2 separate regions of the Homo sapiens genome follow, and region 1 is linked to region 2. Evidence: fine-mapped QTL for protein levels in blood plasma. Region 2 holds a variant in brackets. A gene starts in the other region. All regions are shown on their forward strands.

Region 1 (14,791 bases), not on the chromosome of region 2:
TTGTTAGGTATTTTTTGGCCAATGGTGTCAGGAAAAAATTACTGAGACACCCAAGACAAGTGAAGGAGAGTGTTCGAAGCCTCTACCTCAGGGATGTGGTGGGCTTCAGACGTCAGTTTCTGCTGATTCAGCTCTCCCCGTGATCAGTTTCTGGACTCTGTCTTCAGGGATCCCCAGAGCCAGCTAAAGCAGATGGTGTCTTTGATAGCAGCTTCCTGCACCATCCTGAAGATACTCATAGGCTTCAAGCAGGAAACCTTAGTTTTCCTCATATAGAATCCTTCCTCCTCTATAGTATCTCTGCTTTTCAAATGAGGAGGCAAACATAGAGCAATAAAGGAATGTCCCTGAGCTCCCCCAGCCATTAAGCAGTGGAGCTGGCATGCAAACAAGGCTGATGCAGAGTGCTAGCTCTTACCACTGTGCTAGTTGGCCTCCCAGAAAAATCACTGGACTCACTGAAACCAGGCTAACACATGAGCCAACAGATGCCCCAAGGCCGCACCTCGCCTGGGCACATGGTCCAGATCCCACGATCCCAGCAAATGCTTTATTTACCAGCATCACCTGCCAAAGCCACAGACGACAAACTCTCCTTGGGGGAAGAAGGCTTCAATCTCTCTGGTCAATCTCAGTGCCGTCAGCCTCTCTGAGAGTCTGCGTCTTGCAGCCTCACCCTTAAAAGTGAGTTTCCCAGGGTGTGGGCATTTTCTTTTCTTTTCTTTTTTTAAACAGAGTTTCACTCGTCACCCAGGCTGGAGTGCAGCTCACTGCAACCTCCACCTTCTGGGTTCAAGCGATTCTCCTGCCTCAGCCTCCTGAGTAGCTGGGATTACAGGTACCCTCACCATGCCTGGCTAATTTTTGTATTTTTAGTAGAGACATGGTTTCGCCATGTTGGCCAGGCTGGCCTCGAACTCCTGACCTTAAGTCATTCCCCACGCCTCAGCCTCCCGAAGTGCTGGGATTACAGGCGTGAGTCACCGCGTCTGGCCAGGTGTGGGCATTTTCTGATTAGAGACTTGGCTATCACATATGGACTGGCTTTGCTGTAGGGGGTAAAGATCACAGGATCTGCCTGGGTTCAAACCCCCACTTACTAGTTGGTCAACTAGGGCAGATGGCTTAATGCAGTTAGGCAAGTGCCTTCAGCTTCCTACTCTGTAAATTGTGGTAAGAACGGCACTTACTTCTTGGAGGTTGTTATGAATCTTACATGGATTAAGCCAAGTAAAGCCCTTAAAAAAGGACCGGGCATGTAAGAAGTGCTTCAAGGCTGGGCATGGTGGCTCATGCCTGTAATCCCAGCACTTCGGGAGGCTGAGGTGGGTGGATCACCTGAGGCGAAGAGTTCGAAACCAGCCTGACCAACATAGTGAAACCCCGTCTGTATTAAAAATACAAAAATTAGCCGGGCGTGGTTGTGGGTGCCTGTAATCCCAGCTACTTGGGAGGCTGCGGCAGGAGAATCGCTTGAACCTGGGAGGCGGAGGTTGCAGTGAGCCGAGATGGCGCTATTGCACTCCAGCCTGAGCAACAAGAGAGAAACTCCGTCTCGAAAAAACAAAAACAAAAACAAAAAACAAAAACAAAAACAAAACAGAAGTGCTTCAAGCATTCACTATTATTATCGTCAGTATTTAGCGCTAAACCCTATTTACATTTGTAATGGCTAGTGCACGAGCATTGGAACCTGGTCTGGAAAGTATCCCTCTCCCCAGGCCTGATTTGCCCGGAGGTGGGTAAGGGCAAGGTTGGCAGCTAAGGCAGGAAGCAAAGGGCCCAACTGGAGCTCAGTGGTGTCAACTCCCTTCCTCCTCAAGGGTTGCTCCCTGTCTGTCCCACTAATGTTTGAAAAATATTTTACTGGGTTCCTAGCCCTGAACTTCAGCGTCTCCTGCCCTCCAGGCTGTTATTTTCAGAGGTAGAGATGAGAGCTGAGATAGGGTCTCCCTTGAGACACTGTCCCTAAAAACTACGACCTTCAGCTCCTAATTGAGGGCTTCCCCGCCCAAACCCACCCCTTCGCAACACAGCCCCCAGGGAAGGTGTCTAGCCTTTGGAGCACTAGGTGGGGGCGGGGGAAACCTGGTCCTAGGAATTCTAGGCCGCCAGATGAGAGGCGATGCTTTCGCCCTCCAGGCGAAAGGATTTGTCGGGGAGAGACAGCAAGAGTTCGACCAGCCAGCCACTTTAGAGATTGTCAGGGGCGCTCAGCTCATAGGGTGGCTCGAGGGCCAGTGCGAAGCTCCCTTAGGGACGAATTTCCACATACGACGAAAGGCATCTGCGAAAGGATGGGCTGTCCCGTGGGGGGAGTCGGCAGATATTTAAGTAACACTAACATTTAACGAATTAAGCAGCTATTTCTATTTACTGAGCAATTAGTACGCTTTGAGAGAGAGGCCCTACCGAGGCCTCGCGGTGGCTGTAAGTCCGTGGGGCCGAGGCCAGGTGGCGCCAAAGGCCCATCGACGCCATCTGCCCGGCTGTCCGGGCCCAGTCTCCGGGCTCGCCCAGAGAACCCGAAATCTGGACAAACGGAAACCGTAGGTGGAGGAAGAAGAGGGCTCCAGGGCCAGGTTCAAGGGCATCGTGGTGAGAGATGAGGGGTTCGGAGGACTGGTGGATCTGGGCATATCGCGAAGGTGGTAAGGGACCCAGGGGTGGAGTGGGCGGTGCTTGCGCCAAGAGGGTGAGCCTGAGTGTGGGCGGGGCGTGCGATAAGAGGCTCGCTCGGTAGCGCTCTTCGCAGAGCCGTATTTGTGCGCTACGCCGCAGCCAGGGCGCTCTGGGTGGGCGGGACTCCAGGGCCCCCAGGGGCGTGGCTTGCATCTTTCGTGGGCGGCCCCGGGGGCGGGGCTCCGTGTAGGTGAACCGCTACCTCCGCTCGATGTGTGAGGTGTGACAGTCCTACGAGGGCGCAGTTCTTCCACTTTTGTGAGCTTGAGAGGGGGCGGAGCTTGTAGCTGGGGACGGAGCCTGAAGAGGAGGTTGAGGGGAACTTCACACGTTTCCCTGGAGGGCGGAGTTTACATCATCCCCCAACAGAGTTAAGACCTCTGAGGGATTCCCTGCAGTGTCCAGGGCTCTGTGAGGCGAAGCTTGCAGTTGTGTTGGGCGGGGCCTGTAGCGCCGCGTGAAGAGAATGTGTAAACTCGGGGCGAAGTTCATACCTCCTAGAAGCCGAGACTAATAGTTCCGCCAATCTGCGCGCGCCGAGCGGAGGAGGTGGGGCTTGTAGGTTGTGGGCGGGGGACTGGGCGGGGCCAAGAGGGCAGGGGGCGGGCACAATCGCTGCTGGAATCTTTGAGTTGGCAGGGGCGGGGCTTGTGGCTTTGTGGGCGGGGCCTCTGGAGAGCTCCCGGGGGCTCTCTTCTGTTCTGCAGCGAGTAGGCGTGGCTCGTAGCTCCCAGGTCCGGGCTGATACCGCTGGAGTATGCAGTTCGCCGCCGCGCCCGAATGAGGCGGGGCCTGCGAGTAAGTGGGCTGAGCCCGGGCTGGGCGCAGGCCGGGGCTCTGCCCTGGGAGGCCGTCTGTTTAGGCCCGCACGCAGCTCCGCATCTGGTGCTCATTACCAGATGACAAAGAGCCGGCTCTGGGCCCCCTTCCCCACTCCCATCCCCCGCCTCCGACTGCAGTGTATTTAACTGTTTCCTGCCCTCGAGGCGCTCTAGATCCCTACCCGAGGTCACGGAGGGGACTCCAGACCATCCCGTCTCTGCAGGCCTTGTCGCTCCCCAGGCTTCCTCACCTCCTTCCCAGACTCAGCCGTCTGGGCCGCCTCGCAACCCTCATTGGCATCCAGCAAACCTGCCCGACGGCGTCTCCGAGGTTAAAGCTGTGCAGGATCTGGCGGGGACGTCTGGTTTGAGTTAGGGGAACGTGAGAGCGGGGACCGGGGGCGGTGCGTAGCGTTCCCTCCGCCCCCTCCGCGACCCCCTGGTTCATCCCCAGCTCCGGCCCCTCCTTTCCTGGTTCCCTGGGGCCCAGCTCAGCCTTCCAGCTCAGGTCCAGGCCCGAAGGGGGCGCTGGGCCACTCCTCCTCGCCTGCCCGGGTGGTCGTGGCGGCTCTGCCCCGTCCTAATTAGAGGCCCCCAAGAGGCTGTAACTGAAAAATTACAGAGGCGGTGGGAACTGGCGCCTCCCCTCCCCAGGTCTCACCCCCGCCCCCCAAGGCAGTGAGCACGAAATGAGGGAGGTCACTCCCACCAGGCTGTGATCTTTGACCAGGCCCTCCAGTTCCTGGGACACTTCAGTCCTGAGCAGCCGGAGCCCTCGCTCAAGCTCAGGTCTGCTGAGCTCTGTCTGTCCCCCACCACCCCCAGCCAACATGGACAAGAGCAACGTGCGGCCCTGGCAAAAGGAGGCCTTGCTCCTGCGGCTGTCCAAGCAGTTAGCATGGGATCTCTCCCAGGTTCCCGGCCTTTCCCATCCCAGCCTCCTCCCCGGAGCAAGCGGAGGAATGCCTCCAAGAGCACCCACAAACCAGGGGTTGGCAGTCCCCTTGAGTTACCCTGAGCCCCAGCCCCCAACTTCCGCGAAGCTTACAGGGATGGGAAGGGAAGTGTCTGAAGAAAGGAGCAACTCACCCACTAGACCCCTCCTTCACTCCTCTGAATCACCAGCCCCAGAGCCTACTTTGACCCCTAAACCCCAGTCCGGTTCAGCAGATGCCCTAATTCCACAACCGTCCCCCAGATTCAGCCCCACCTTCTTGGAGCTTTGGTAAAATAAGGAATAAATATGAAATTCTCCCCATGCCAAACCTCCCACTGCTGGGCTCAACTGTGTGACCTTGGGCAAGGCTCTGCCCTCTCTGGGCTCCTGCTTCCCTGAGAATCTCTGAGGCATACCCTCCCTTAAAGGGATCTTACCTTATCTCTTTGAGGACTCAGACAAACTGAAGGAAGATCCCCTCCTTTTTGCTGAGTCCTCCCAGAACCTCCCTTAAGCACCAGTGGGGGTCAGAAGCCTTGGGTAAGGTTGACACCCCATTTATTGGAGAAGACCCCAGCACCCGCCCCCTGAGGTCTTAAGGGCTTTGGTGTATCCTTGGTCACGAGCGCTGGGCCAGGAAGCAGAGTTCCTGAGAGCCAAGTCTAGTGGTTGAGAGAGGACCCTGGCTGGGCCTGGGGAGCAGGAAGCCATCTGTCCAGCTGGGCAGCCCCCATGGGTCCCTGGTGCAGCCCCGGCCATGTGTCCAGCGCCCCATACTCCATGAGGGGGGTCTGCACCCCATCACACGCTGGTTCTGCAGGTCTGCACCCCTGTGAGGCTGCCCCTGGGGGGCATGGGTTCTGTTGGGCTCTTGCTCCCAGCATGGATGACCCAGCGATAGCAGTCAGTGATGCGCTTGTTGGGTGCATGGGGGCCACAGCGGGTGCAGTACACGATGCCCAGTGCAAGCAGGACCACCAAAAAGACACACGTTGGCACCAGGAGTGCCACCAGCAGCCACCGGTCATCCCTCTGGCTGTGCTCGGCAAGACCAGCCTCCCCCAGGGCTGTTGGGGCTGCTGTGGGAGCTGGTGAGGGCAGCCACAGGGCCAACTTGGGACTGGGGCCATCTTCCCTTGGGATTTGGGGGGCTTTGGAATGGGGATGTGTAGGGCTGATGGGTGAGGTCTGGTTAGTGGGGCTCTGAGAGGGCAGGAGGGTGGGGAGGGCTGCGGGCTGGGTGGCAGCAGGCACAGAGATTTGATGGGCAGGAGACACAGGGGACCTGGAGGTGGTGGTCAGAGAGGGCTGGGCAGTTGGGATAATGGGAAGCTGGGTGGCCTGGGTTCTGAGGACAAGGGCATCTGGGGCTTGAGGGGGTAGCTGGGCACCGAGGGTGGTGACCAGAGGGGCATGGTTAGGTGGGATTCCAGGCAAATGAGTGGTGGTCTGGGTGCCAGCGACCCGGGTGTCTGGAAACATGGGGGACTGGTGGGCAGGGAAGAGCTCCGGATATTTGGTTGAGATCATAGGGGGCTGGTGGGCAGGAGGCTGTGCTGAATGAGAGACAGAGAGAATACCGGGTTGGTAGGCAGAAGGCAGATCTGGATAGTTGGCTGCGATCACGGGGATCTGGTGGTCACGGGACAAAGCTGGGTGTGTGGCAGGGATCACAGGAGGCTGGTGGGCAGAAGGCAGTGTGGGATGCGTGGCAGAGACCACCACAGGCCGGGTGACGGAGAGCACTGAGGAGTGGTAGGGGACCCTGGGGGCACTGAGCGGGGGTGGCCAGGTGGGCTCCGGGTAGGGTATCTGTGGCTCTCTGTCCTCTGGGAAGCTCGGTCTATAGGCCAGGGCAAAGTCAGGCGGCTGCGTAGGCTCCATCCACAGGATCCCAGGCATCTCCGTCCAGCCACCGTTGAAGGCCTTCCAGGCCTCGTCTTCATCTTCCTCATCCTCCCCGTCATCCAGCAACTCATCTCCGAGGTCCTGGGAAGCCTGGGCACCCATGGCCCCTGCAGGGCTGCAGCTGATGCCATCAGCCTCCAGCTCATGTCCCTCGCTACAATAACACTCGAAGCCACCAACGTAGTTGACACACATCTGCTGGCACACACCGGCAATCTGGCACTCATCTGTGTCCACACAGCGGTGCGGATCATCCTCCGCTGGCCGGAAACCCAGGCGACAGTGGCAGCTGTAGCCTTGTGGCCCACCGGGCTCACACTGCTGCTCGCACGGAGCCTGGGCACAGGGGTCCTCGCAACTGCGCCCGTCTGCTGCCAGCCGGAAGCCCTCAGTGCAGCGGCAGGACACGTGACCATCCACCTCCTCCACACATTCGTGTTCGCAGCCCCCGTTGTCAGGGCTGCAGCCAGTCCCCAGGCACAGGGGCCCAGCCCGTGACCAGCCCACACCTCCCTCAGGCTGCTTCACGCAGAGCAGAGAGGCTCCCCTGCCAGCCTGGCACTGCACAGCGGCCACAGAGCCGAAGGGCAGCCACTCAAACTCTGTGGAGACCAGGTGGAAGGGCGTGGTATACACGGCTGGGCCGGCCTGGCCCGCCTCATCTTGCAGCGCCGGGCAGGCGCCCTCGAAGCCAAACTGGCACAGGTAGCCGTCGACAGCCAGCGTGCACGAGCCCTCCAGCCAGCGGTGCTCGCCACTTGCCTCCAGGGCCACACAGCGCTGGGCCGGGCAGGGGCCTCCAGAGGCTGGCTGGGCCCAGTTGGTGAAAGCCGTGTCCTGGTCCCCTGTGGTCCACGTGAAGCCGCGCAGTGGGCGCTGCAGCTGGCATTGCCGGGCCTGCCGCTGCAGCCCGATCCACAGCAGCCGGCTGGCTGGGCCCGCACCCACCAGGCTGTCCACACGCTGGGCCTCCTCGGGGGTCCGAGGAGTGGCCAGGTCGCCCCCCAGCTCGCGGCAGGCCCGCCAGGCCTCCAGGAAGGTGCGGCGCCGTGGGAAGAGAGCGTAGCAGCTGCTGGGGCCGCAGGCGGCACGGGGCTCAGCAGCCCAGGGGTCCTGGCCCAGTGTGGGCCCTGCGGCCGCCCAGGCCAGCAACAGGCGCAGCAGCATCGCGATGCCCCCGGACTGGTCCGGCCCCGGGCTGGCGGCAGCTCTTGACAGGGGGAGGGCCTGGGGCCTCCTGCGGGCGGGCCGGGGGCGGGCCTGGGGCCGGGCTCAGGCCTTGTAAGGAGTGGGCTGGGGCGGCTGCCAGCTCCCTGCTCCCTCTTCCCCGGGGGCCGCTAGAGCAGGAAGCAGTGGGGTGGGGGGCTCTAAGGTTGGGGGCGGAGGAGGGGAGAAGGCGCAGTTGACGGCTGCCCCAGGCCCCATGGGGCTGAGAGTCAGGGGGTGGGAAAAGCCTGCCTGCCGAGCTCTGTGACCCTCAAGTTGGGGCTCGGGGCTGTGGGGTGAGGTCGCTTCCCAGAGACTCAGAGACCCAAATCTGGACACAGCAGCCCCATCACACCCGGGAGCAGTCTCAGCCCAGCTGCTCGCCATGCACGGGAACACCCTCATGCCCACTCCTTTCTTGCCCCACAGACGCGCGCATGCGCCTCCCCCACCCCCAACCCCATGCAAGAGTGCACTCTCTGCCAAGCTGTTTGTCCCTTCACCTCACCGTGGACCTATGCTGGCTTGCAGATGACTCCCTTGCCACACGTACACACATTCTGACATGCTGAGACCCTAGGTGCACATACAAAAATGGTGTGGCATTCTACATGGCCTGACATATGAAGACCTCCGATTCGGCCTGAATGGAAACAGCTTGGTCACCCAGGCACAGGCATCCTCAGCCTCTCATTTATTTACTGAGCCCCTGCGTCAGCCTCTCCCCCTATACTCAAGCTTTCTGGTTCCAGCTGGGCCAGCGTGTGGGGGTGTTGGGGGAGTGAGGGGGCCAGGGGCTGCCCTCCCCTCACCCCAGCTCAGCCTGGGGCCCTGGGAACCTGGGCTTAGAGGGGGAGGAGGCAGCCCCTAAACAGGAAATGCCTCTCTGGGCTCCTGCGTCAGGAAGGCAGGGTGCGTGGTTTAGGGGGCTGGGTGGGGGCTGGGCTGCACGCAGGATGTGGAAGGCTGTGAGGGGACCCATGCAAGGCCATGTATGGGCATGGGGCACACAGTGACATATATGTGTATATGTGACACAGGCATCACGTGTGTGGAGCCCTCCCTGCCCCCGGGGCCTGCTGTTTCGGCCTGGCCAGGGTCCTCTTCCCGCCCTTCCTGGAGGCCTCTGGAGGCATGTGCACTGAGCCCATCATCCAGGATGGCCTCTGGGGAGCTGGCTGGCGGATTAACCCATGCACACCCGCTGCACTCTTAGCAGAAGTTAGAAACAGTGTGGGGAGGTGGGGGAGAGGTTCCGCCCTTCAGTAAACTGCCCTGATGCAGCTTCCCCCTCTGCCACAGATGGATCGACTTTGTGACTGCAGGGGAGTCACTGGCCCTCTCTGGGTCTCCTTTTTTCTCAGTTGCAACATGAGGGCAATGAGTCCAGGATTTTTAGCTCAGCAGGGCTGAGATATTGCGTCACAGCGCTCAGTGTTTGCAAATGTGCTTTGTCAGCTGTGGAGCCTGAAGCAAATGTTCCTGTCTTCTGAGCATATGTGGTGGGTGGAGACCAGGGTGCGTTTTTGCAAACCACCTTACAGTGCCTAGGCTGGCCCTGCAGACCCAGCCAGCCCCTCGAGAACCAGGGCTTAGGAAGTTCTTGCCATATGCCTGGAAGTTCCTTCTTACAAGGTCTATACATGTGAAGCACACAGAATGACTCCCCTTCTCAGGAGACAAAAGTCAAGATGGAGGAGTTCATCCTTCTGTTGGCTCAGGCCCCAAACCTTGAGGTCATGCTTGACTCCTCTCTTTCTCCCACAGCCCACATCCAGTCTCTCAGCAAATCCTGTTGGCTTCACTTTCAAAAGAGATCCAGAATCTGACCACTCCTGGACACCTTCTTTGCCACCCACCCCCGGCCCAGGTGGCTAGCAACGCCAATCTAGATTTCCCCAACAGCCTCTCCCGTGGTGTCTCTCTTGCCCTCTCCATCCTGCCAGAGGGATCCTTTCAAAATCCAAGTCAGATCTGATCACTTCTCCATTCAGAACCCTCTGAGCCCCCCATCTCGCTTAGAGGAAGGGCCACAGTCCTTGCCATGGCCTCCTGGTCTATGTCATCTGCCTCCAAACTCTGGCCTCATTGCTGTTCCTTAAATGCTCCAGACACTCTGCCTCACAGCCTTGGTCTTGGCTGTTCCTGCTGCCTGGAATGCTCTTCCTCCAATATAAAAATGCTCTGCTTCTTTACCTTCTCCAGGGCTCAGCTCAAGTACCAGAGTCCTTGACCATCTCACCCCACCCCACACCGCCCCCTGGGGCTCCTTGACCACTGGATCTTCCTGCATTTTCTCGCTCTGCACTTATCACTATCTGACATTAAATATATTTACTTGTGAAATTAGTTGGACGTGGTGGTGCACCTGTAATCCCAGCTACTCGGGAGGCTGAGGCAGGAGAATCATTTGAACCTGGGAGGTGGAGGTTGCAGTGAGCCAAGATTGCGCCACTGCACACTCCAGCCTGGGCGACAGAGCAAGACTGTGGAAAAGAAAAGAGGAGAGGAGAGGAGGGGAGGGGAGGGGAGAGGCGAGCGGGAGAGAAAAAGAAAAGAAGGAAAGATGTTGGGAACAAGCCCCCCAAAATTTGGCCATAAACTGGCCCCAAAACTGGCCATAAACAAAATCTCTGCAGCACTGTGACATGTTCATGATGGCCATAACGCCCACACTGGAAGGCTGTGGGTTTACCAGAATGAGAGCAAGGAACACCTGGCCCCGCCCAGGGCGGAAAACCGCTTAAAGGCATTCTTAAGCCACAAACAATAGCATGAGTGATCTGTGCCTTAAGGACATGCTCCTGCTGCAGTTAACTAGCCCAACCTATTCCTTTAATTCAGCCCATCCCTTCGTTTCCCATAAGGGATACTTTTAGTTAATTTAATATCTATAGAAACAATGCTAATGACTGGCTTGCTGTTAATAAATACGTGGGTAAATCTCTGTTCGGGGCTCTCAGCTCTGAAGGCTGTGAGACCCCTGGTTTCTCACTTCACACCTCTATATTTCTGTGTGTGTGTCTTTAATTCCTCTAGCACCGCTGGGTTAGGGTCTCCCCGACCGAGCTGGTCTCGGCAGAAAGAGAGAACGAACGAAAGAAAGAAAGAGAAAAGACTTACATGTTAGACCTAAAACCATAAAAACTCTAGAAGAAAACCTAGGCAATACCATTCAGGACATAGGCATGGGCAAGGACTTGATGTCTAAAACACCAAAAGCAATGGCAACAAGAGCCAAAATTGACAAATGGGATCTAATTAAACTAAAGAGCTTCTGTACAGCAAAAGAAACCACCATCAAAGTGAACAGGCAACCTACAGAATGGGAGAAAGTTTTTGCAACCTACTCATCTGACAAAGGGCTAATATCCAGAATCTACAATGAACTCAAACAAATTTACAAGAAAAAGCAAACAACCCTATCAAAAAGTGGGCGAAGGATATGAACAGACAGTTCTCAAAAGAAGACAATTATGCAGCCAAAAAAAACACATGAAAAAATGCTCATCATCACTGGCCATCAGAGAAATGCAAATCAAAACCACAATGAGATACCATCTCACACCAGTTAGAATGGCGATCATTAAAAAGTCAAGAAACAACAGGTGCTGGAGAGGATGTGGAGAAGTAAGAACACTTTTACACTGTTGGTGGGACTGTAAACTAGTTCAACCATTGTGGAAGTCAGTGTGGTGATTCCTCAGGGATCTAGAACTAGAAATACCATTTGGCCCAGCCATCCCATTACTGGATATATACCCAAAGGATTATAAATCATGCTGCTATAAAGACACATGCACACGTATGTTTATTGCGGCACTATTCACAATAGCAAAGGCTTGGAACCAACCCAAATGTCCAACAATGATAGACTGTATTAAGAAAATGTGGCACATATACACCATGGAATACTACGCAGCCATAAAAAATGATGAGTTCATGTCCTTTGTAGGGACATAGATGAAGCTGGAAGCCATCATTCTCAGCAAACTATCGCAAGGACAAAAAAAACCAAACACCGCATGTTCTCACTCATAGGTGAGAATTGAACAATGAGAACACGTGGACACAGGAAGGGGAACATCACACACCGGTGACTGTTGTAGGGTGGGGGATGGGGGAGGGATAGCATTAGGAGATATACCTAATGCTAAATGACAAGTTAATGGGTGCAGCACACCAACATGGCAAATGTATACATATGTAACAAACCTGCACGTTGTGCATGTGTATCTTAAAACTTAAAGTATAATAATAATAAAAAAAATTTTTTAAAAAGAAAGAGAGAAAGAGAGAAGGAAGGAAGGAAAGGAGAAGAAAGAAGGGGAAGGAAGAAGGAAAGGAGAGGAAGGGAGGGGTGGGGATGGGAGGGAAAGGAAGGGAAAGGAAGAAGGGAGGGAGGGAGGAAGGAAGGAAGGAAGGAAAGGAAAGAGAGAGAGGAAGGAAGGAAGGAAGGAAGGAAGAAAGAAAAAGAAATTTACTTGTGGATTTGCTTATTGCTTATGGCCCAAATCTCCCCTAGCCAGTGTTTCTCAACCTTGGAGTTACTGGTATTCAGGCCTCGGTAATTACTTGTTGTAGGGACTGCGTGGTGCATTGCAAGGTGTTTAGCAGTGTTCCTGGCTCCTATGTAGATGCCAGTGGCATCCCTCCAGTTGGACCATCCAAAATGTCTCCAGACATTGCCAAATGTCATGTTCCCTGGAAGCAGCATCACCCCCAGGGGAGAACTTCTGCCCTTGGAGACTGTGAGCTCCATGAGAGCAGGGTTGTTATTTGGTTCCCTGCTCTATCCCCAAGCCTAGAAAGCTCCTGACTCATTCACGATGCCTCGTGAATGAGCTTCAAAGAAGTGATGAACCTGGCTCAGGGAGATGCAGTGGGGAGCTGGGATTCTTCCTGCAGCCAAAGCTCACTTGTCCCCAACACTCACTGGCCTTCCACATGAAGTCAGACCACCTCTGGCAATCGGCAGGCCTTTTTGCAGATGGGGAAACTGAGGTACAAGGAGTTTCAAAGAGTGTCGGTGGCAGGAATGGGACTAGAGCCAAGGTCTCCTTATTCTTATTCCAGTTCTCTTTTTGCTGTAGCACCCTCAGGCATCATTTGAGCAAAGTTCTGAGAGTTAGGCCTCAAGTCAAAAACCAAAGACAGGGCAGGGCACAGTGGCTCACGCCTGTAATCCCAGCACTTTGGGAGGCCAAGGTGGGCCGATCACATGAGGCCCGGAGTTCGAGACCAGCCTGGCCAATATGGTGGAACCTCGTCTCTATTAAAAATACAAAAATTAGCCCGGCGTGTTGGCGGGTACCTGTGGTCCCAGCTACTCGGGAGACTGAAGCACAAGAATCGCTTGAACCTGGAGGCGGAGGCTGCAGTGAGCCGAGATCACCCCCTGCAGTCCAGCCTGGGTAACAGAGACTCCATCTCGAAAAAACAAAAACAAGATGGGAGGAAGGCATACCAGGAAGAAGGCACAGCCTGGGCAAGACTACTGAGGTGGCAGAGCTCAAGATGGGTTTGGAGAATACAAAGGACTCCACCAGGCTGAAGTGAGGGACATTGTTAGGGACAGTAAGGAGTGGAGAAAAGGAGTAGGGGCCTGTCTTGAAAGGTGTTGAAGTTGTCCCTAAAAGTCCGGGGCTCCCTTCTGGAGGCCATGGGGAAGAGAGGCATGATGAGAGATCTCTGTGGCTTGTGTGTGGTGGGTGGAGGGGGCTTGGAGGCCAGGGACCAGTTAGGAGGCTGTTGCAATAGTCTGGGAAAGGGGAGGGAGCTGGCTGGAGAGCCCGGCGGCAGGGCGGGCCGGGCTGGGGGAGGCAGCCTCCAGAGGCTCCTTAGGGGCAGTCCTGAGCCTGGTCCAAGGGTGTGGTGAGCCCAGTCATGAGTCGGGCAATGGCCAGTACTAGGGCGTCTAAGGGGACGGATGGCTGCAGGCCGTCTGACAAGTGGGTGGATGGGATCAGAGGTCAGGAGTCCAGCCTCTGTGGGGGTGAGGGGTTGGGGGGCAAGCAGGCAAAGCAGGAGAAGAAAGGTCAAAGGCCAAATTCCAGATGTCTTGGCTGGGCCTACTTGCAAGTGGAAGGAGGCCTGAGCCAGCATGAGGGATGGAGAAGGCAGGAAGGGGCACCTCTGGCCTCTGTGAGGCTAAGCGTCTGGTGGATTGGGAATGAGACTTGGAGAGGTATCTGGTTGCTCAGTTCGGGAGGGTGCCCAGCACTCAGCAGCCTCCCCAAGGTTGTGTGAGGTAAGGTTGAGGCTGCCCAAGAACTGTTTTATCTAGTGAGGCTGGAGGATGTAGCGGGCATAGCATCAGGGATCTGGGTTTAAGGGGCTGGAGAGGGGTTGGTTGGGGTCTTGTTCTTCCTGCTAGTCTTTCAGCCTAGCAGAGAGAAGATGCTAATTGATACAATAAATGCTTGGAGGATGGGTGGGTGGATATATGGATGGATGGATGCATGGATGGATGGAGGCATGCATGAGTGGATGGACTGATGGACGGATGGATGAATGCATGCATGGATAATGAATGAGTGGGGTGGCTGGCTGGGTGGATACATGGATGTTGATCTGGGGTGGGTGTGTGGGTGGATGGATGCATGGATGGGTGAATGCATGGGTGTGTGGGTGGGTGGATACATGAGTAGATGGGTAGATGGATGAATGCATGTATGCACAGATGTATGAGTGGGTAGAAGGATGCTTGGGCAGAAGATGGATGGATGGGTGGATGGATGGATGGATAGATGTATGCATGCATAGGGCTGTATGTGGCTGGACAGATGCATGGGTGGGTGGCTGGACAGATGCATGGGTGGGTGGATGAGTGGGCAGAGGCATGCATAGATGATGCATGGGTGCGTGGTGGGTAGATGCATGAGTAGATGGGCAAATGGATGGATGCATGGGTGGGTGGGTGGATGGATGCATGCATGCATGTATGAAGGCATGGGTGGGTGGATGCATGGGTGGATAGATGGATGGATGCATGGGTGGGAGAGTGAATAGATGGATGGATGCATGGATGCATGGGTGGGTGGGAGGATGTTTACGTGGAGAATAGGTGGATGGGTGGTTGGGTGGACGGGAGGCTAAATGGAAGGATGTAGAAATGAGTAAGTGGATGGATGGATAGATGGGTAGGTGGGCAGGTGTGTGGATGAGAAGATTTTGAGATGCATGTTTGGATATAGGGCCACAGGCAGAAGTGGGAGGTCCTGAGTCATAACTAGCA
Region 2 (14,791 bases):
ACTCATTGCATTTGTGGACTGAAAGGTCTTGGAGAGCAGGGAAGCTGTTCACCTTGTTTACCCCTGTACCCTCAACATTTAGCACAAGGGCAGGCACATACTAGGCACTCAATTAGTATTTATCACGAAGAGTTTTGTGTGTCAGGATGAACAGTACATATTTTATTCTAAAAGGTAATGGGAACTAATAAAAAGGCTTTAGACTGGGGAATCACAAGATCTGTTTTATATTTTATGAAAAGTACTCTGACAGCAGTCCAAGGAATGAGTTAGAGGGGAGAGAGATGGAAGGTGGAGGGAAAAGTTGGAAGATTATTTCAACAGTCTAGTTGAGACAAGAGCCACTCTGTTTAAAAAGTGGATATGCAATGGAAGCATCCAGGAGAGAAGTTAGGAAGGAAGGATGGACAAGACTTGGTGAGTGATTGGCTGAGGGGTGATGAAGGGGGAGAGGTCTGGGTGATGCTCGGATTTCTAATTTGGGTGATAAGGAGGATGGCAGTAGCTTTCATGGACAAAAGAAAAATGGGAAGATGAGCAGGCTTTGGGAGGGAGAGACAATGATTTCAGCTTTTGATGTTATTGAGTTTGAGGTAGCTGTGAAGGTTTCAGGTGAAGATTTCCAGTAGGCAGTGAGACACATGGCCCTGGAACTCAGAAGACAGGTCTTGACAAAAGACACAATTTAGGAGGCACCAACACGGTTGAGGTTTCAAACCTCTGATAAAAACCTTTGGGCCTTCTCCCAAGAAAGGATGCAAATATACACATTATGTTTCCTTTAATTTAAGAAGCTCTATTTGAATCCATCCAGAGATCCTAGGTTAAGATAAAGTAAGGATAAGATCTCTGAAACTGTAAGAGTATTGAGAGAGAATTAAAGGGAAACAGTGAGGGAAAGGAAGGAGGGATTGAGAGGGAGAGGAGAAGAGGAGAGAGTCAATGACAGAAACTTGACATGCAAACATTTTTGAAGCGTGCACAGGAAAAATAGCTGACAAAGGAGTTTGTATAGGAGGGGCTGAAGAGGAGGGAACAAGGAAGTTTAGTGGGAACAGATCTTCAAGGAAGGAGTAGTCAACAGTAACAGTATTAATGTTGTAGAAAAGAATTCAAACAAGAGTTTGATTGAAATATGGCAATCAAGGAACTATTAATGACCTTTTCCTGAGCAATTTCAGGGGCTGGGGCTGAGAAACAGAAGTTTGACAGCTTTTGGTTGAAGACGGAGTAGGAATGAAAAAGTGTTTAGTCAAGTGCTTCTCCTCTTCAGAATCTCCATTATGAAGGAATAGTGCACATATCATCTGGCTGTCCAGGATCACTTCCTCCTCCCCTTCTTATTAGCATATCATTCTTTCTGGAGAAGCCCCACTGTGAGTACTTAATAGAAAGCAGTGATTGCTTTCTACTATGGAAACCCGAGGGTCCAGATCTTCCTTTTCCCCACTTTGGGGCACTATTAAGGACTAAATTTTGTCTCTCCCAGTTCATATGTTGAAGTCCACATGTGGAACCCCCTATACCTCAGGATGTGACTATATGTGGATATAGAGCCTTTAAAGAGGTAATTAAGTTAAAATAAAATCATTAGGTGGGCTCTAGTCCAATATGACTGATGTCCTTGTTAGTTGGGACACAGACCCATACAGGGAGAAGATGGACACCTACAAGCCAAGGAGAGAGGCCTCAGAAGAAACCAACCCTATGGACTCAAAGGAAGAACAACAGACACACTGGGGCCTACTTGAGGGTGGAGGGTAGGAAGAGGGAGAGGATCGGAAAAAATAACTATTGAGTAACTAGGCTTAGTACATGGGTGATGAAATAATGTGTGCAACAAACCCCCGTGATAGGAGTTTACCTATGTAGCAAACCTGCACGCATACCCCTAAATCTAAAATAAAATTTTTAAAAAAAAAATTAAAAGAAACCAACCCTGTCAACACCTTGATCTTGGACTTGCAGCCTCAAGAACTGTAAGAAAATACATTTTTGTTGTTTAAGCCACCCAGTCTGTGGTACTTTGTTATAAAAGTGCTAGCTAACTGATACAGGCAGACAGAGGACAGGCATATAACTGAGGTTTGGCCCATTAGAGTCTCTTCTGAGATGAATCCTGAATAAGTGACACTTGTTTACTCATAAGGGAGATTCACTTCTAGGAGAGGGAGATGGTTGGGTCCCAGTCATCACAGCAGTGGGATGGGCTCACCTCCTCTAGTTTCCATCCAATAAATCTTTTTCCTCTACTTAAAAGATCTGGATTCTGATAAAGTTGTTTATAACCCAGAGCCCTAAGTGACACAATAAGAAAGGAGAAGTGGAGGATGGTAACTAGACAGAGCTGATTCATCAAGACAGGGGAATTGCAATAGAGAAAGAGTAATTCATGCAGAGCTGACTGAGCCAGAGACTGGAGTTTTATTATTACTCAAATCAGTCTTCCAGAGCATTCGGGGAGCAGAGTTTTTAAGGACAACTTGGTTGGTGGAGGGGAAGCCAGTGAGCCAGGAGTGTTGATTGGTCAGGGATGAAATCACAGGAAGTTGAAGCTGTCTTCTTGTTCTGAGTCAGTTCCTGGGTGGGCACCACAAGATCAGATGAGCCAGTTTATTGATCTGGGTGTTGCCAGGTGATCCATCAAGTGCAGGGTCTGCAAAATATCTCAAGCACCGATCTTAGGATCAGTGCTTAGGAAGGGTCAGAATCTTGTAGCCTCCACCTGCATGATTCCTAAACCATAATTTCCAATCTTGTGGCTAATGTTAGTCCTACAAAGACAATCTAGTCTTCAGAAAAAAAGGAGGTCTGCCCTGGGAAAGGGCTGTTATCATCTTTGCTTTAAACCACAAACTATAAACTAAGTTTCTCCCAAAGTTAGTTCAGCCTATGCCCAAGAATGAGGAAAGACAGCTTGGAGGTTAGAAGCAAGATGGAGTCAATTAAGTTAGATCTCTCTCACTGTTTCAGACACAATTCTGCAAAGGTAGTTACAAGAGAATGGGAGTTTTTGTTTTCTTTTAAGTGAAAGATACGAGCTTGGTTATAGGTCTTTGGGAAGAAGCCAGCAGGGTGGGAGAAGTTGGATGCCTAACAGGGACGGAACACCTAGAGAAGCAAGTGTGGGTCCTGAGGAGATGGGAATGGGACATGGACAGGGAGTTGGCTGTGAACTGGATACGGATTACCTCTCGCTCTGAGCTGAAGGCAGGAGCTGAGGGGGTACATATGCAAATCCATTTTCAGATGTTGAGTGACCATCCACATCTGCTGGTCCTGATTTTCTTGGTTAAGGAGGAGTCAAAGACACTTGTCGAGAAAGAGTGGGTAACAGTTGTGGTGGGGGTTTGAGAACACCAGAGTTGAGAATGGCCATTGTGGTGCATGGGAGAAGGAGCCGACTGTTTGTATGTACAAGAATTACCAAGAATTCCAAACAGTTGTAAGGATTGCCAAGCAATGCCAAAGGTCCAGCTGAGGTGGGTCGCTGTGCATTTGTAGCTGGAGCAGTCTTCAGTGCTGATAACATTTCTCCAGTTGTACTCAGTGCCAACTGCTGTCTGATTAGCCTGCTGAAAACGGTCCTGAGCAGGAGTGGAGGGAAGTCCTACAACCTGTATTACCTCCAAAGCAGCTCAACCAGACTGAGGAAATGCTAGAATGAAGGTATGTGGGCTTTCAGTGAGCTCATCCAAGACAGGTAGTCAAGAAGGCTGTGAGAAAGGTAGGCTGGCCTGGCAGTCTTTGGTATAGTCCAGCAGTTGAATTCCAGTTACCTATTGCTGTAACTGTAGAAAAAACAAACTCAGTTCCTCCCACTATGCTCTCACAACACATTTCTGACAACAGATATGTGGGGATTTCTCTCCACTGGCAAGCAAGCAAGCAAGCAAGCAAGCAATTCAGCAGTGGGCACCAACTGGGTGTCTTCTAATCCAGTGGTCTCCAAAATTTTTGGCACCAGGGATTGGCTTCATGGAAGACAATTTTTCCTCGGACAGGGGTAGGGGGGTGGGGGATGGTTTCAGGATGATTCAAGTGCATTACATTTATTGTGCACTTCATTTCTATTATTATTACAGTGTAATATTTAATGAAGTAATTATACAACTTACCATAATGTAGAATCAGGGGGAGCCCCGAGCTTGTTTTCTTGCAACTAGACAGTCCCATCTAGGGTGATGGGAGACAATGCCAGGTCATCAGGCATTAGATTCTCATAAGGAGAATGCAACCTAGATCCCTTGCATGCGTACTTCACAATAGGGTTCATGCTCCTGTGATAATTTAATGCCACAGCTGATCTGATAGGAGGAGGAGCTCAGGCGGTGATGTGAGCCATGGGGATCTACTGTAAATACAGATAAAGCTTTGCTCCCCACCTGCCCCTCACTTCCTGCTGTGCAGCCCAGTTCCTAAGAGGTCACTGACAACTACAGGTCTGGGGATTGGGACTTCTGCTCAAATTCAATTGAATTCCAACACTATCTAACTGGAAATAGCATCAGGTGACACAAGTGAAGGGCTCAGTCTCACAAGACACTTCTGATACTCCAGGATGAAGCCCCAGGTTGTTTTACCTGTGCTTTTGACCAACCAGTTATAAATGGGGGTTCCCACCACCTGCATCTTGGGTTCAATTAATTTGCTAGAGTGGCTCTCAGTACTCAGGGAAACATTTACATTTATCAGTTTGTGATAAAGAATATTACAAAGGACACAAGTAAAGAGTACATAGGGCAAGACCTGTGGGAAGGGGCTTGGAGCTTCCATGCCCTCTGGTGCACTACCCTCCAAGAACCTCTCTGTGTTCGGCTCTCTGGAGGATCTCCAAACCCTGTCCTTTTGGGTTTTTATGGGAGCTTTATTACTTAGGAATGATTAATTAAGTCATTGGCTATTGGTGATCAATTCAACCTTCAGCCCCTCTCCACTTCCCAGAGGGAGTTTGGAGGGTGGAGCTGAAAGCCCCAATCCTCTGACCTTGCCATGATCTTTCTTGTGCCCAGCCCCTGTTATGAAGCTACCTAAGAGCTGCCAGCCATCAGTTACCTCATTAGCACACCAAAAGACATCACTTTGGAGATTCTAAGGATTTTAGGAGTTGTATGCCAGGAAAAAGGATGAAGACTGTATAAAGGACCCTTGACATAACTAACTCCATCTTAGAAAAAGACTCCATTTTATATTTCGTAGGGCATTTGGCCAACAAGATAAAATGTTCTAAGAAACAAATTAAAAATGATAAAGACTGCATCCGACCAAATAAGGCCACAGACAAGCACACTCTTCCAACTTTCAGTTCTTATCACAGGACTCCACGACTAAAAGAGAAGGCCTTCAGCAGCTTGAAATGGCTATCTTAGCTGACACTGTCTTGCAGTCACTCATGATGATAATTTGGCATCTGCCACTGAAGGCTCTGCCACCTCAGACTCTTCTTTGCAAGACCAACGGGTAGCCAGGCCCAAACCAGGCCTCCTTTGTTCTTCTTAGATCCTCATCAACAGGCTTATTAACCCTTTCTCCTGTCTCTTTTTCCTCTTGATGTTAAATAGTACTTAGTTTGTTGTGGAACGTTTAACCTATAACATTTATGTAAATGTTATAGGTAGAGAGGATTGCCATATTTGGGAGAGAGGGTCTCTCTCTCTCTCTCCCACTGGACGTGAACAAGGGCTCATTTTGTCCTAAGGTCTTGCTGGCAGCTATCCTTAAGACTTTATAACATTTAGGAAGCTATACAGCTTCTCTTTCTGCTGTAGTCTAATCACCAGAAGTTATAAGCCCACCCAGATTCAAGGGTAGAGGATGTAGGCCTCATTTCTTGATGGAGAGAGTGTCAAAGAATTTGCAGCCGTGTTTTAGTGCTGCCACAACTAGCTACTCTAATACACTTTAAAGATTTCTTGATTCTTCGGTGGTGTGATTAGAGTAAAATCCTGAAAAATAGAAAGGCCTGGGGGAAGGGGAGACTGTAAGATCTAGGGAAGGGAAGATTTTTTATCCTATTCTAAGAACAATCACAGGAAGAAGGGAGGTAGTTGGTACTAACTAGAAAGAAGCAAGTCAGACAGACATTATCCATTCATCCCCTCCCAGGTCCAAGAGTTTGCTTACGATTATAAACAGCAAGAAGACTGTATTTCGTGATGCTCTCTTAGCTCAGGGCTACAGAGCAATGCTGTTGTATGTAGGAAAGAATGATTTCTTGAACTTGAATCCACAGTAGGTTCTGAGTTTTTTCCAACTCAACAATTGCTATGACTCAGTTAACTCAACAAATAGAATATGATGTACTAGCCTGATATCCATCCCTCTCCCTCCCTTCTAATATAACCTTGATTCTATTCAGGAATCACCCTCATATGCAGAGGTGGATCTTGACTGATCTAAGCCACTCAGGGTGTAGCATTCCCCTGGCTTTTATTGGTTAAGTGGGAGAAGACGGAACTTTGTCCTAAATAGGGCCAATCTGGTAGAGGGGAGTGCCATGTTTGGGAGAGATGATCTCTCTCTCCCACTGTACATGAACAAGGGCTCATTTTGTCCTAGGTTCTGCTGGCAAAACCTAAGATTTTGAAGGCAGCCAGTCTGAGGTCAATGCCAAA[T/A]AGCCAAGGAGGACAGAGTGGAGGGATAGAATATGGTCTTGGTGACATCACTGAGCTTCTAACGCAACCAACCCAGATTTCTTACAATTTCAAGTAAATTTCCCTGCTGTTTAAGCCAATTTAAGTCAGGGCTTGTTACCTTCATCCAAAGGCATCCTAGTGAATACCTTGGTATTTACTGAGTACCTACTAAAAAGATAAGAAACTCTCTTTCTGGAAGGAGCTAATAATGAACAGGGGAGGAAACTTGACATTTAATGAAGAAGAAAGAAATGCTGACCTGGAGACCAGGAGCTCTAGACCTAGCTATGTCACCCAGGGTGACCACCGATTAAATTGTCTAGATCTCAGTCTCTACAATCATGAAATGAGAAAGTGGAGTGTGGACTGTATGTTTGCTAAGATCTCCTCTGGCTAAATTACTGTGTCTTAATGTCAACTAGAGGAAATATGATGCCCCCACTTTTTTTTTTTTTTTTTTTGGTAAGCATCAGTGGTCCACAAAGAATTTAACAATTGGTACCAACAGAGAGGCAAAAAATACCTTTTTTTTTTTAGACAAAGCCTCACTCTGTCGCCAAGGCTGGAGTGCAGTGGCATGATCTCGGCTCACTGCAATCTCTGCCTCCCGGGTACAAGCGATTCTCCTGTCTCAGCCTCCCAAGTAGCTGGGATTACAGGCATATGCCCCCATGCCCAGCTAATTTTTGTATTTTTAGTAGACACGGGTTTTCGCCATGTTGGCCAGGCTGGTCTCGAACTCCTGACCTCAGGTGATCCACCCATCTCGGCCTCCCAAAGTGCTGGGATTACAGGTGTGAGCCACTGGGCCTGGCCAAGAAGGAATATAATTGCCTTTTAAGAAAATATTCTGCTTGCTTTCTTTTTTAGAGATGAGGTCTCACTGTGTCAGCCAGGCTGGATTAAAAAACTCCTGGACTCAAGCAGTCCTTCTGCCTCAGCCTCCTGAGTAGCCAGCACTACTGCCTGGCTTCTACTTGCTTATTTTAATATTAATAACAAAATATAGTAAGCTCTGAGCTTTAAATACAATAGATATCAAAATTATTTAATAAAAAATATTCATGGTCCCAGCATGGTGGCTCATACCTGTAATCCCAGCACATTGGGAGGCTGAGGCAGGAGCATTGCTTGAGGCCAGGAGTTCAACACCAGTCTGGGCAACCTGGCAAAACCCCATCTCTTAAAAAAATTCAAAATAAGCCAGGCCTGGGGCTACATGCCTGTGGTCCCAGCTACTTGGGAGGCTGAGGCGGGAGGATCACTTGAGCCTGGGAAGTGGAGGTTGCAGTGAACTGTGATCGTGCAACTGCACTCCAGCCTGGGCAACAGAGCGATACCCCGTCTCAAAACAAAACAAAACAAAATATTCACCATTATGTGTCTAGTAAAGTGAAGAAAAGAAATAGGAAAGGAAACTGTCAATATAAAAGAAAAGGGAGGAGAACAGGCAGAGTTAGAGACATAAAGACACAAAATGGGATGGGACTTAGAGGAAAACCAGTGAGAGAAAACTCAGAAAGACACAGTTACTGGGACAGTAAAAAACAAAACAAAACAAAAACCCACAAAAAACTGAGAGAGACACCCAGGTTTTCAAATATGGTGTCTTAAAAATAGATAGAAAATGCATGAAGAGCAAGGCATCTACTGAGAGGTCTGGAAACAGACACACCTCGAGATACATCATACAAAGGCAGTCATGGGACAAGGAGAGAACACTTTCACAAAACCAGGAAGAGATAGACAGACAACAAGGGAAAAAAAGCACATGGGATTGAAGCAGATTTTGTGGGATGACCTTAAGCTGCACCTGTTTTCTTTGGCTGTGGTTATTAAAATAATATGACCTGTTGACATACAAGAACTTTCTAAAATTTTATGCTATAGCCAAGAGTGAGTTTTAAATGCCCTGCCTTGTGCTATCTCACATCAGAACATGCTTAGATGCCTCCCAGACTTGCAAGTTTTTAAAGTTTCAAAAAGAGAGTGATGGCGATGTGTTATGGGAAGGATACTGGCCAAGGAGGAAGGAAATCTCAGTTTTGGTTTCGGTCTGACAGGGGTCAGTTGTCAAGCCACTTCTCTTCCCTGAACTTGTTTCCTCATAGCAAAGTGAGGTAATCGGGCTAGATTATATCTAACTCTTTCCATCTTAAATATTCTCTAATTCTGAATGTTGCCTTCCAGTGGTAATTTCTAGATATTGCAGAATGTAGTAGCCTTTGTCTTCTAAAAATCCTAATGAAGGCAGCTTTTGGGAGCCAAAAGGATTTTCTAGCAGAGCTAGCAAGTTATACTTCTAAGAGTTAAAAGTTAATTATAAAAACTAAATTCATGCTTCTGCTCATGTGCAAAATCTTCAGAATCTACCAGAACAATACAAGGTAACACCAAAAAGAAAACTTAGTTTTTGAAAAAGTTTTTGAAAAAGAAGTGGAAATACTGTTTTGTGTTGTTCTGTTTTTATCCGTGCCATCCCACTGGAGAAGAGAGAAAGGTTGGCAACATCATTGGGAGTATGAGCAGAGCTCAGAACCATCCCTAGAGACTCAGTCCTTGTCCCTTTCGCCAATATTTTGTTATTGTGGCTTTAAGCACTTTTTGGTTTGAAAATACACGCGTGATCTATATATGTTCTTGTTGCAAATAAGTGAAACAATTCGGACGTAAATAAAATAAAAGTAACAGTGAGATTTAATGACTCCCTCCCCCAATTTCACTCCCTTCCTCAGAGGTAACCCCTTAGAAGCTTGTAGTATATCTTTCCAGAACTTTCCCCATACACTTATATTCATATAAGCACACATCCACCTATATGTATTTATATTTTCTTCATTTTTGTTGTTATTGTTAGCATAGTACATAATGCATATTATTCTGCAACTTCCTTTTTTATAATGATTCCACATATACATAAACACCATGTTGTTTCACCATGTTGGCCAGCTGGTCTCGAACAACTGCAAACTCCACTCAACATCTTTCACATTTCACGTTAAATGGGAGGAGAAATGCTTAAAAAATGTATTTGAGGGTGTGTGGAAAGGAAGAAATGGTATTACTTTGACTTTCTTTTTTTTTAAAAAGATTTGGGTCATTTTGGCCACCAAAACAGGAACTTTATCCTGTATGGGCAGTTGCCTACTGCACAGCCATTTCTTCCCTTCTTCTTTGCTAACGGAACTTGATTTCGTTTAGCAATGTTGTGGTCATGAGCTGTAGAGAAGCCTAGACCTTTTCCAGCCTCAGTGTGTGAACTTTCAGTTAGTCTAAACCAGTGGTTCTCAAATTTGAGCTACATCAGAGCCATTTGGAGGGCTTGTTAAAAACACAACTTGGTGAGCTCTACTCTACCCTCCGAGTTTCTGATTCTGGTGGGGCTTGAGAATGTGCATTTCTAACAAGTTTCCAGGTAATGCTGATCTTGGCACAAGGACCACACTTTGAGAACTGCCGCTCTAAGCCAATTATGGTGTTCTATTGTCTTGCCATGCTTAGGACTAAGCATATGATACAGTTCTGGACAATTAATCCTCAGGGATAATCTGCTAGAGGGATTCTGGGACACAGGAAGTAACGAGTTCTTTCTCAGTCTTTGGACATGGTGATGCTTAAAGATGTGATGCTGGGAGCTACTACGGCAGCCAACTTGCTTCCAGAGAAGACTGGCTGACATGCTGAGAGTAGCAAAGCAAAGAGAGGGAAGAATCTGGGTTACTGATGACATTATTGTAGATTAAACAGCTCTGGAGCTGCCCTAACTTCAAGAAACTTAATATGTGAGATAGTAAAACATTTATTGTTATTTAAGCCATTTGAGCAGAATTTTCTGTACTTGCTTCAGAAAGCCACCTAACTGATTCATTCATACCCCTCTCTCTCAGTGCTCAGGGAGACTCCAGCTGATGTAGCAGCAGAGCAATTTACTTGAAGCATGATTTTGGATATTTTAGGTTGTTTCTAATTTTCATTATCATTCAGTAGCTCTGCAAAGAGTAACAGTGCTTTTGTATATTTTGGGATATTTCCAAAGGTCATTTTCCCAGAAGCAAAATTACAATGTCAAAAGTACATGAATTTCCAAGGTTTTGATAGTTTTTCCAAATCTCTTTCCAAAACAATTGTTTTAATTTCTACCCTATTCAGAAATATATGCAAGTTCATTTAATCACGTTCTTTTTTCTTAATTGTGGGCAATTTCATAGCTGAGAAATGGGGTCTCATAATTTTTATTTGCATTTATTTGATTACTAGTGTGGAATCAACATTTACCATGTGTCTGTCAACCAGTTGCATTTCCTCTTTCATATTGCTATTAGATGGAAAGCACTTAGCACCATGTCTGGCCCTCTTGGATATTTATTTTTTGTTTAACTAAATGTTTTTGGGTTTCTCTATTGATATCCCTGCCTTTGCCTATTTATCAAAACTCTATGTTCTTCTCATTAATTTCTTATATAATAAAAATACCCCTTTGCAGGGAGACATGAATTTTTACACATTTTTTTTCCAGTTTGCAGTTAGTAGTTTGTTTTTGGTTGGTTTTAGTTTTGTATCATTCCGAAATTTAAAAGTTTTATGAAGGTGTTTTCTTTTCTTTCTTTCTTTTTTTGTTTTTTTTTTTTTTTTTTTTTTGAGACAGAGTCTCACTCTGTTGCCCAGGCTGGAGTGCAGTGGCATGATCTCCGCTCGCTGCAACCTTTGCCTCACTTCCTGGGTTCAAGTGAGCACGTTCGGCTAATTTTTGTATTTTCAGTAGGGACGGGGTTTCACCATGTTGGCCAGCTGGTCTCGAACTTCTGACCTCATGTAATCCGCCTGCCTCCGCCTCCCGAAGTGCTAGGATTACAGGCATGAGCCACCACGCCTGGTCTCTTTTCCTTCAGAGAATTTACTCAAGATTCAATTCTATTATCCTCTGGTGTATCCATAGCTTGATTCGTGTGTTTCACTCTATGATCCTTATGAAACAGATTTGCTTGTATTCTGAGAGGAGCTGTCTGCTTAACAACTTGCCTGGCTCGAGGGGCTTACTAATGCCTTTTAGCTCCCTGCTTTTTGACTCTCTTTACAACTCTCCTTAGAACCCAACAAAAAGAGACATAAAATAAGTGACATAAAAATGTGAAATGCTTAAACCATTTATTTTACATTGCTGACTTTTTTCCATGTATCTTTCCTTTCTGATTAGTACTTAAAATCAAGGCAGAAGCACCTTAAAGATAGAAATGGCTAAATATTCTTGAACCTTTCAATCGTAGGATGCCAGAACAGGCCTCTAGCGTAGAAAATGTCTATACTGAGATCAAAGAGTCTCCCCTAGAGCAGAGTTTGTTGTATTCTGAGTATGAGGAGAGTAGGACAGTGTGATGGAGCTGCAGTGGAGTAAATGGGTTTTGGTATCACAGTGCTTTACAGAACACATTAAGGAGTTTGGGTTTTGTCGTGAGGGTGTGGGGAGCCACTGAATTATTTGAAGCAGGAAAGTGACATAATATAATTTGTACTTTAACAAAATTACTCTGGTTGCTGCTTGTAAATAGGCTGGAGGAGTAAGACTGGGAGCAGAAAGATGAGTTGGTCTCTTGCGGTAGTCATGGTGGCAGATGAAGATAGCCTCAGGCTAAGGTAATGGTGGTGGGGTTGAGATATTTAGCAAGGAGAACTGGCACAATTGGATGTGGGTTATGAAAGAGAATGTGGGAATCACAATGATATCCAGATTCCTGCCTTAGGAGGTGCCATTCCCTGAGGTGGGGAATATGATGGAAAGAAGCTTAGCTGGAAGGGGTTGTGGAGAGATGGTAAGTTCAGGTTTGGATATTCTGCGTTTGAGGTGCCTGTGGACATAGCAGGGGAGTGGTCAATATCAGCTGGGTAACTGGAAGGAGAAATCTGGGCTAGAGCTAGAGACACAGACTGGAGCTGAATTGTGCTTTTAGAAAATTAACTGGAAGCCAAAGAGATGACTCCTTATTTGCTGATACCTTGCAGCAGGTCTATTTCCAGTGACAAGGAGGCAAGTTTGAATTGGTTAGAGCCTCATTCACAGTTCTTCAAATGTTCTTGTCAAGTATTTACTTGCTACTAAGGAGGATGGCTTCAACCTTCCCCAGGACCATTTTCCAGCATCCTTCAGCATGTTTGCTTAGGACCAAGTTCCCACCCTACTGAATTTTACCCTTGCTGGAGACACATGCACTTGATACAGTTAAAGGGCAAAACAGGCCTGATGGGGAGGTTCCAACGCATTTGCGTTGCAGACCGTAGGCGTTAGAATCTAACTCCTAGTTTTCTACTACAACTTCAAATGCCACCCTCCTCACTAAGGGTCTAAAGCCAGAGTGCGGATGAATGAATCAAGCCTTTCTTTCTGAGTACCACTGTCTGAAGTCATGCTGAGGTCAAGAGACATTCAATCAGAAGAGCAGACCAAGTGGCTTAAGGTAAGTGCAGCCCCGGGTTCTCCTTGCTCTGGACTCTTTTTTTTTTTTTTTTTTTTTTTTGAGACGGAGTCTCCCTCTGTCGCCCAGGCTGGAGTGCAGTGGCGGGATCTCGGCTCACTGCAAGCTCCGCCTCCCGGGTTCACGCCATTCTCCTGCCTCAGCCTCCCAAGTAGCTGGGACTACAGGCGCCCGCCACTACGCCCGGCTAATTTTTTGTATTTTTAGTAGAGACGGGGTTTCACCGTTTTAGCCGGGATGGTCTCGATCTCCTGACCTCGTGATCCGCCCGCCTCGGCCTCCCAAAGTGCTGGGATTACAGGCGTGAGCCACTGTGCCCGGCCTGCTCTGGACTCTTAATCTCACTCCCCTAGACCATTAGTTGGCTGTTTGTTGCATTAAACCACTCAGATCTCTCTTTCATTTCCTTGTAAACTGGATTCCTTTGTCCTGCAGAAGAGATGTACACTGTCCACTTTTGTTTCAACAGAGGGCAGTAGAGAACAGCAAACAGTTTACATTTCTAAGCCCAGAAGAAACAAAACAAATCCATTTACAACATTCTCCCCAGGTCAAGGTACCCAAAATATGGCACACTGTGCTTCGTGTGTTCATAAATGGGGCATGTCTTTGTGAAAGTAGGGCAGATCCCGGAGAGTCAGCGACTCGTAGACGACTCTTCCTCTTGTGAACAACAGTTTAGTTATGTGTAACTCATGGAAGGCTTTATGGAGAAGGAGTTTGATCTTGAAGGATAAGTATGAGTTGGCAAGATAGCTTTGTTCACAGAAAGCAGCATGGGCTCAAACATGGCAATAGCATGGCAAGCTTGGGGAAGTTAGGAATAGGATTGGGCAGAATCTGACAAGACCGCAATATACCTCAAGACTCTAGGTGCTGGAATCTTCAGTATGGCACATAGCATCCTGTGCCGTGGGGCAGCTGTGATATTACATACACTCTCAGATGCTATGTGCCATCCCGAAGTGTTTGAATGTCACTTTGAAGGGTTTAATATCATCCTGAAAGCAATGTAAAATCATTGAAGAATTTTGAGTAGGGTGGTGATCTAACCTATTAGGCAATTTGAGATTTTCTTGTTTGTTTTTAATTGAGGTATATCATGGTCTTGTTAATCTTTTAAACTTTAGCCACCCAGGTGGGTATACAGTGATATTGTGTTTTTAATGTGCGTTTCCCTGATAAGTAGTGACTTATTATCTTTTTATGTGCTTATTTGGTCATTTGGATATCCTTTTTTATGATGTTTCTGTTTAAGTCTTTTGCACACTTACGAATTGGCTTATCTTCTTCTCATTGATTTTTAATAGTTTTTTATGTATTTTAGATATGTCTTTTGTCAAATATACCTATTACAAATATTTCTCCTACTCTGTGGCTTTCCTACTAACTTTTCAAATGATGTCTTAATTTTTTCTTTTTTTTCTTTTTTTTGAGGCAGAGTCTTGCTCTGTCGCCCAGGCTGGAGTGCAGTGGCGCAAGCTTGGCTCATTGTAACCTCTATGTCCAAGGTTCAAGTGATTCTCATGCCTCAGCCTCCAGAGTAGATGGGACTACAGGCACACACCAGCATGCCTGACTAATTTTTTTATTTTTATTTAATAGAGATGGAATTTCATCATGTTGGTCAGGCTGGAACTTTTTTTTAATATTATATTTCAATAATGATTATACCAAAAATATATTTTG

Which allele goes with the higher level. Alleles are on the strand shown, and positions count from the first base shown. The strength of an association depends on the size of the effect and on how common the allele is.
With allele A in place of T in region 2, the plasma level of the protein whose gene starts at base 7,532 in region 1 is higher (weak association).

What was found. PIP is the posterior inclusion probability: the model's chance that the variant is causal. The UK Biobank Pharma Proteomics Project read protein levels with antibody pairs (Olink). The fine-mapping took linkage between variants from a reference panel, not from the people measured, so its PIPs are less certain.
Region 1: it holds the start of CD248, and the variant in region 2 is fine-mapped to the plasma level of the CD248 protein (UK Biobank, PIP 0.97).

What each region holds. Positions count from the first base shown.
Region 1 is chr11:66,309,513-66,324,303 of GRCh38, forward strand. It overlaps CD248 (CD248 molecule), which reads right to left and starts at 7,532. Exons shown (of 1, transcript NM_020404.3): 1 at 4,982-7,532. The coding sequence starts at 7,515. The coding sequence ends at 5,242. RefSeq lists silencers at 2,689-2,938, 7,461-7,730 and enhancers at 6,281-6,977, 9,534-10,035, 10,036-10,535.
Region 2 is chr1:161,552,787-161,567,577 of GRCh38, forward strand. No RefSeq gene overlaps it. Among named protein-coding and RNA genes, the nearest start is that of FCGR3A, 10 kb to the left of the region's middle. The variant T/A (reference allele first, on the strand shown) is at 6,615.